3 separate regions of the Homo sapiens genome follow, and all the other regions are linked to region 1. The links come from fine-mapping of genetic effects on gene expression. A gene starts in region 1. Each other region holds a variant in brackets. All regions are shown on one strand. Distances are between the middles of the regions. Region 1 holds the start of SLC25A27 (solute carrier family 25 member 27). Region 2 has its middle 3.9 kb from the start of ANKRD66. Region 3 overlaps CYP39A1 (cytochrome P450 family 39 subfamily A member 1).

What was found.
Region 2: its variant is fine-mapped to the expression of SLC25A27 in sun-exposed skin (GTEx, PIP 0.90).
Region 3: its variant is fine-mapped to the expression of SLC25A27 in tibial nerve (GTEx, PIP above 0.99). The same link has a PIP of 0.9 or more in esophagus mucosa.

What each region holds. Positions count from the first base shown.
Region 1 is chr6:46,651,770-46,654,532 of GRCh38, forward strand. It overlaps SLC25A27 (solute carrier family 25 member 27), which reads left to right and starts at 1,206. Exons shown (of 9, transcript NM_004277.5): 1 at 1,206-1,529. The coding sequence starts at 1,424. It overlaps CYP39A1 (cytochrome P450 family 39 subfamily A member 1), which reads right to left and starts at 1,049. Exons shown (of 12, transcript NM_016593.5): 1 at 637-1,049. The coding sequence starts at 813. RefSeq lists enhancers at 954-1,003, 1,234-1,363 and silencers at 1,024-1,113, 1,544-1,643.
Region 2 is chr6:46,741,699-46,744,461 of GRCh38, forward strand. No RefSeq gene overlaps it. Among named protein-coding and RNA genes, the nearest start is that of ANKRD66, 3.9 kb to the right of the region's middle. The variant C/G (reference allele first, on the strand shown) is at 1,589.
Region 3 is chr6:46,629,394-46,632,156 of GRCh38, forward strand. CYP39A1 (cytochrome P450 family 39 subfamily A member 1) reads right to left here. Exons shown (of 12, transcript NM_016593.5): 6 at 1,570-1,677. Among named protein-coding and RNA genes, the nearest start is that of CYP39A1, 22 kb to the right of the region's middle. The variant A/C (reference allele first, on the strand shown) is at 1,169.

The DNA.
Region 1 (2,763 bases):
ATACCATAAAATATTTGTGACTGGAAATTGAATAAAACTTAAAAGACATTAATAAAGGTCTGTTCCTTAAAGTGCTCAGACATTTAAAAGATACTTTCAAGACAAAAACATCTACTACAAGGAGGATTACTAGTCTCTTCAGGCCGTAGTGAAAATGGAGTACATCATCATCAAATAACAACGTCAGCTAAAAATACAGAGCCTGTTTATTGTGTACGGACCAACTGTGCAAGCAATTTGTACAATACTTTGGTGTTAACTCCAATTTGGATACGAATTACTCATTTTCACAAACTTAAATTGGATTACACTTTATCTTTCCCAATTACTGAAAACATTTACTTAACACATACACATTTGGAACTTAACTTCGATGAAGTAAAAATACGAAAAGTTAATCTCTACTTCCAAAAATGTCGATGCACGCTGCAATTGTATTTCATTTCTTTCGCAAAATTTTGCACAGGATATTGTTGTTAATTGTTAGTAGAGGAATTCAGAAATGACTAGATCCTTTAGTTGAGGCAAGCAGGTATGTTCCCCGTGTTCTAGCCCTGCACTTAAGAGTCAATGAAAGAAAGTTTAAAAAAGAAAGCATTGTCTCCTCTGGAGACCCCGTCTGCCACGACCACATACCTTGATTCTTGCTTTCTCTATAAATTCTAGAGGGGCTTTCCCAAACTCAAATCCAACTCCAATCCAAGGAATCCAGCCCTTGATGCACGGGGGTCTACGCAAATTCTTCCGCTGAAGGAGTAAGAACAGAGCAAGGCAACCCAGGATTATAATCACTGTTGGGGAAATTAGTTCCATGTTTTTGTCCAGCACCTTCCAGAAGCAGAAAAGTGTGAAACAGTCCTGCCGTCCCTTGCTTCTTTTCTGTGGGCTACGGAACCTGTCGGGACTCCCAACCTTTCTGCTGCAACTTTTGCAGCTCTCCTTCGTAACTGTAGCTTCCTTCCTCTGTCCCAGTTTTCAGGTGATTTTTCCATTGTCGCTCCCTCCCACCTCCACTTCTCTTTGAATCTCAGCCAGCGCGGAAAAAATGCAAGGAGGGGCAGGGCCGGGCTAGGACTGACGGGCGAGAACCAGCCGCGTTGCCATGGAGGCCGGGGGCGGAGCCGCAGAGGGACCCGCGGCCGGCCAATCAGAGACGTAGCGGAGCCCGGCGGACTACATTGCCCAGTAACCTCCTGGGCTCCGCTGTGTTTTTCTATTCTGGGGTGTAAGGGGCAGCTGGACCACTCCAGCTGGGACTGCTAGGAAGGTTGCGGGTCCACCCGGCCGAGCCGAACGAGGGAAATGGTCCTCACCCGGCCACTCGCCGGTTGAAAAGGGGCCGCCCTGGCAGGGAAGCGGCCGCCGCGGCGCGGTGCAGCGCAGCGGCGAGAAGGAGTGCGTTATCGTCTTGCGCTACTGCTGAATGTCCGTCCCGGAGGAGGAGGAGAGGCTTTTGCCGCTGACCCAGAGATGGCCCCGAGCGAGCAAATTCCTACTGTCCGGCTGCGCGGCTACCGTGGCCGAGCTAGGTACCCGGCTGCCCACGCCTGGGCCTCCCGGGCCAGTGGCACGCGCCGCGCTGGGGGAGGGTGCGCGGGCGGCTTCGCGCCCGGCAGTGCGCATCGGAGAGGTCGCCCCTTCCATGCCCGCCTGGCAGAGGTGGCGGTGGAGGCCAGGCCCGCGGTGGGAGGAGGAGGGATTGAGGTCTCCACGGCCTTTTCCTTCTAATCTCTTCTAATGCTTCCCTTAGGCATGTGCTGTGGTGCTTGAATGTTGTACTTTAAGAAGCTTCGCGAGCTGTCATTCCTCTGTAGGAATCATTTTCCTTTTCATGAGGATGACCTTTTTAAAAACGTAATCTGTTTTCCATCCTTACTGAGATCATCTCTGTGGTTTATAGTCTTACACAGCCACACTGTCATTATCTTGTGGGTCCAAGTTGTGGACCTACCTTGTGGGACTTCCGTTATTAACCTGCCACTCACAGAGCATCGACTACTTGACCTCTTTGAGTGTAATTCATCTATACTGTTTACCTTGCAGGATTCTGAGAAGTCAATAATATATGATTGCTAAACCCAAGGCAGGACACCCATTAGTTGCGACATTTTTATAATTCCTACAATACCAGGGACTGTGGATATATATTTGAAAAGACCCAGTTCTGACCTTCTTACAGGCTGCTGGGGAGACAGAGAAAGACAATTATAATGTGCTACTTGTTATAATGAAGATATTATTAGGTGTCATAAAAGCATAGAAGAGCAGTTACATCTGCCTACATGAGTAAGAAAAAACTTTAAGAGGCCATCTAGAGTGGAATGATGATGCCCTTGAATGAGCAAGTAGCGTTTATTCCAAGGATTTTGTGAGTAGTATACTCATGTGTTTCCTGTGAAGCCTTAACTGTGTATTTTAAGATTACCCTTACATTTTCTTGCCTGTTACAAAAAAATAAAAAGAACAGTTCTGATGCGTTATCATTTGTAAATGTTAGTTGGTCCTATTTTAAGAGTTTATTTTTTAATTCTAGCATAGCCAGCCATGATCAGTTGTTTCGTGCTCTTCCATTTTTGCCTTTTAGCCCCTCTATTTTTTAATGTCTCTCCTTTCGAAAATGATGGAGAATTTTTACTTTTCATTGTTTTTACTGAAATAAAATTCATCAGCTTAAAAAGATCTAAAAGCAGATTGCTGAATGATATTTCCAGGTTTTATTTTTAATTGATGTGTCCCCCTCTGACTCAATGGCTTTTATACAGG
Region 2 (2,763 bases), 90 kb after region 1:
ATAGTGCAGTGCCTCTGGGCAAACAACACTGAAGAGCCCTTATCATGCATGGGCCTGCAGGAGCAAGAGGAGAAAGCAGTAGCTGTGACCTGGCAAGACCAACTCTATAGAGAAGGCCACCAGAGAGGAACTGTGACCTTCACAGCAAACCCTTGGCACTCAGGCAGGAAGGAGGCCGAGGGACTAAATATTCCAAACCCATTCTCCATCCATCCTTCAATCTCATGCTGGAAATTGCCCAGGCCCAACTGGAAACCAGTGGCACCAGAGCCCATGGGTGCCAGGTGGGAAAAATGGAGAGTGGATCTGATGAGACAAATGAAGGATGTCCAGCATACCTGCTTATTCCTATATACCAGTCTTCAAGTGCTTCGGTGCCCCTCTTACAGCATTTAACATAGCCTCGATTACATTTTGTTGTGCAATATCTTACCTCCTCAACTAGATTAATAACTACTCAAAGAGAGATGTGATCTTTTTCACATGTGTGATCAGGTGCTCAGGAAATATTTGAAATGTAAAAGTATCCCCCAAAGAGACTCCTTCAAGAAACGTGATTCAGGGACAATCGGTCCACCAGAGAGGCTAGAAAGGATGACATGTCTGGACAAGGGCTCCTTGGTGGGAGGGATATGAGATACCAAGGCAGTGATATAGAACCCTTTTGTAAACCCATGCAACAGTCGAAGTCTACAGAGTGAGGGAGCTACCTAGGCCCACCTTCAGTTTGTGCAGCACACAGGAGAGACTGAGAGGAGAGCCATAGCTGTGTCTTTGAAGCTGGTATCTGCTAGTAAAACAACACCTTAGAGGAAATATGGCCCACTTGGAAATCCTAACTCCACAGAACAAAATTTTACAAGCTTCCTGATGGATTGACACACACTTCTAGTTTGGGCTGATCAGCAGCAATGCTGGAATCCTAGATCCAACACATGCTTTTTCTCCAGGCTCTTCCCACGGGTGGTCCAAGATGTCATCTCAGGTTCTACTCTTTGACTAGGAGGCCCTGTGAAAGCTCCAGCAAAATGGATATAGATAGAAGGGAATGAATAATCCAGAAGCCCAGATGGAACCCAATTCTCACCCTCCTAGTCCCAGATGCAGGGAACTCTAGAACTTGCCTGAGGTATGAGCTTTGGTAGTAGCGCCATCAGGCACCAAGTTTTATCAGCTGTCATCCTCATAACACTCAACAAGAAATACAGAGACCTGCTTTGAGTATGCTTAAGCCCTCTGAGCCTCAGTTTCTTTCTTTTCTTTTTTTTTCAAGAAAGAAGTAAGGAAAGAAAAGAATGGCTACTCCATAGGCAGAGCAGCTGAGACTGTTTCTTTGCCTGCAAATTATCTGTATTTCAGGCTTGGTGTTAGGATTGATGAGATAATATCCATAAAATACTTAGAACAATGCCTGATGCACGAAGGCATCTAACAAATATTCCATTTCCTTCCTGCCATTCCCATTGTCCAAGTCACCATTCCGTCCCTTTACTGTATTGCCTCTTTCATACATATTGAAGTTGAAACTGGGTTATTTCCCAGGGACAGAAGTCTTAACTTCATTAACTTTTGCATGTAAGTTTGACTT[C/G]CACCTCAAGAGGCAATATGTAGCACAGTAGATAAGAACATGGATATTGCAACCAAACTACCAGAACTGTCCCACAGCTAGCTTTGTAAACTTAAGGAAGTAACTTGATTACTACGTGCCTTTGTTTTTGCTTCTGTAAAGTAGGCATAATAAGTGTAACTGCCCCACAGAAATAAATTTGTTAATGTGTTTTAAAGTACTTAGAACAAAGACTATACAGGTTTGTTATTATTATCATCCTCTTTAGAATTGGAAGGAGGTAGGAGAGAATCAAGTCTCAGTGTCCCAAACATGAGTCAGCAGCTCATGGATGGCAGTGCTGCCCAGACCACACCCACTCAACCCTGAACCCTGAACACTGAACCCTGAACTGAACCCTTAACATGCAGTTGCTGTGCATCTATTCTGTATGTTGAACTTAGCTGGGGTGGGGGAGGTGGTAAGAGATGAATGAAAACACAGTAGCAGTGTTACTTTAAATAAATAATTTAATGTCAATGGCTCTCAATATTCTCACCTGTTAAATGAGTTTTGGATTCATTATTTCCAGAGTTTCTTCCTGATCTAAAAATGACTTTGATTCTATGGAAAAAAGGTCTCATGGAAGTCACCTTATCCAGAAACTTTAGTCCCAGTGCTTGAGCCAATGGGACCAAAGATCAATGACTGGCCCATCGATATTTCCCCAGGTGGCCTCTGTGACCTGTTGCAGGATAGGTGAGAGACTGTTGAATGTAGACTTTTGACCTTCATTCAGTCACAAAGGCACACTAAGAGCACTGAGAAACATATATCATACAAACTGAATATCACATTAGCAGACCCTACTACTTGTAGTTAACAAATAATTAATATTTTCATAAGATCAAGATTCATTTTGGCCTTATTTTTATATAGCCCTGTGTATTATGTCAAAATTTTATTTTTTTATTCAAAACATACTACAATATTTTGCACCTTTTTTGTCTCTTCTTCTTCTTCTTCTTCTCCTTCTCCTTCTCCTTCTTCTTCTCCTTCTCCTTCTCCTTCTCCTTCTCCTTCTTCTTCTTCCTCTTCCTCTTCCTCTTCCTCTTCTTCTTCTTTTTCTTCTTCTTCTTCTTCTTCTTCTTCTTCTTCTTCTTCTTCTTCTTCTTCTTCTTCTTCTTCTTCTTCTTCTTCTTCTTCTTTCTTTTAGT
Region 3 (2,763 bases), 22 kb before region 1:
TTTGCTATAGCTTAATCAGTTTCCAAGAATATTATTTAAGGAAAAACCAGAGAAGAATATTATAGGTACATAAAGAAGGGGAAGGGTTTAGACTACTTTTACTTGACCATATCAGATGAAATGTATATTCCACTGGCTAACATACCTTTGAGAAAAGAGGCCAGAATTTCTATCCCTTCTCTTTATGCAGTAAATTTTTCAACAAGTTAAGGGAAACTAGAATATCATGACTGAGAAAGCCTTTAACAACCTAGGCCTTTATAAAAGTAAGGCTAAATAAATAATACTTAAAACATCTTCCTAATTTCTATCTGTTAGAAGAAAAAGGAAGAAAAATGCCCACACATATCATCATGGATAGGTTAAATCCTCCTGTTTAGTAGAAAACAAGTATATTTAAAAAGTTACCCTTTAATTTCAGATAATATAAGTAGCATCTTAGGCTAATGTGAGAACCTCCTGGCCCAGGAAACTGTTGGCACTGAACATGACGTGACAGACAAATCTCATGGCTCTAATCTAATGCAAGACAGATTTTAAAAGAAACAGTTTTTTAGCCGGGCCCAGTAGCTCACGCATGTAATCCCAGCTGCTCAGGAGGCTGAGGCAGGGGAATCGCTTGAACCCGGGAAGCAGAGGTTGCAGTGAGCCGAGATCACGCCATTGCACTCCAGCCTGGGTGATAGAATGAGACACCATCTCAAAAAAACAAAACAAAACAAAACAACAACAACAACAAAAAAACCCACAAAAAACAGTTTTTTAAGTCTTGCCTCTCTTTAGAAGTGTTGAAAGTTCCAATTTCACCAGCACCATTCATGCGGAAGCTTGTAGGACCATAATGCTAAGCAATGCAAACAGGAATGGCACACAGAAGGAGAATGGGTACAAATGGAGAGAAAGAGCTAATATTCATTGATACCAGCTAGGCTTATCTTATTAAATCCTCATAACAACTTTGTAGAGAAATGAGAATTACCATTTATTGAGCACCCAAGTTCTAAGACCACAGTGGGAGGTTCACATACATTATCCCTTTTTTTACCCTTATTAGGTAAAATAGTACATTATCTCTTATTAGGAAATGGAGGCACAGAAAATTTAAATTACCACCATGACAGTCTACAACTACAAATTGGGATGTCTGGATCCAAGCCCAAGTTACCTG[A/C]AACTATCCATTTACTTACTCTTTCCAATAAAAGCATGTGGCCAATCCCTATTCATCTTTTCAATACCAATACTGAGCACATTGGTAGACATACAAAAAGTGTTCCATAAACAGATGTTGTCTACAACTGGCCCCAAAGGGCAAGCTTTTCCCTCATCCTGTTACACACTGCCTTTCAGAGGACAGAATTTGCTTGAGATCTGTTTCGTCTCCTTTGTAACCTAATCAGATTTCATTAGGCATTCAGTTTTGGTTTTTATCTCACAACCAAATCCACTGTAGTTTTTTTCTTTTCCATAATGAGTGATGAGTGGAAAAAAGAATGGAAGACAGAAATGAAGGAAAAAAAGATGAAAGGACAGTGGAGAGCAACGTAACTCATACTTTACTAATATACTTACAGGAACAGCATTAGACAGAGAAGCCCAAAGCAGTAAGAGCCCATAATTGGGTGAGTTTTCCTTACTTGTTTCCGTCTCTACAATATCCAGCGTAGCTTGCAATAATGTCTGTTTAAAAGAAATAAACATTGCCAAACCATGGCTATGTGACAAATATCGATGTTAATAAACAAGAGATCATGCCTTTTTCTTTAATATGAAAGATATCATTTCTGCCATTCCCAGGTTTTGCAGTTTGAGGCATGTGAAGGGATTTATGTCCTTACTGTAGTATAGTAATTAGGAGTAGGGATTCTGGAGCTTGACCGCCTCACTGCATTTGTTCAAATCCTGGCTCAGCTATTTAAGAGCTGGATGACCTTGAACAAGCTACTTTAATCTCTCTGTGCCTCTGTGTCCTCATCCATAAAATGTTCATAATATGGTACCTACCTCGTAGGATTGTTGTGAGAATTAAATGAGTTAGTACCTAAAAAGTGCTTAAAATAAAACCTTTCAGAGGGTAAAATGCACTTTGGATCTCTACTTTACCAAACTGAATTGGCAAATTGTGTGTTATTATCTCTGCCCTCCACACTGCTCTGGAATCCCTGTCTTATAAACCTCTGCTCTTAGCAAAATGCAAGCAATAGAGAAACACACATCTCTGGTGCATTCAGGAGAAAACTACACCCCCATCCACCATACAGATTCTCAGCCCATTCACCATGGGAGACAGAACTGCCAAGCCAGAATATTACAAATACCACAATACTCTAAAACCATACAGAGAACGGACATTTGACTTGAACAGTGACAGCTCAGGGCAGGGCCCCATCCAAGGCTACCCATCTCAAGACATGTTGTTCTCAAGTCACCAAACAAATCCCACTAAAGTATTTTCTTCATCGGGCGGTTTCCCCAGATTTGTCTTTGCCAGTGACGGCTCTCCATCATGGGAAAAAATTCAGACACTGTAACATTTTCATTAAGTTACTCATCTACTTTTAATCTTAAATAACTTATGTCTAGGTGATAGAAATAATGGGAGCTAATATCAACTCACTGCTTGCTAAGGGCAAGTACTGTTTTAAGTGTATTGCAAGTATTTAACCCATTTCACTCCTCACTATAACTCCAAGATGCAGATACTACTATCTTTTTTTTTTATTTTTAAGAAAAGATGTTTACTTGAGAATAGAGCATGGCAATGGG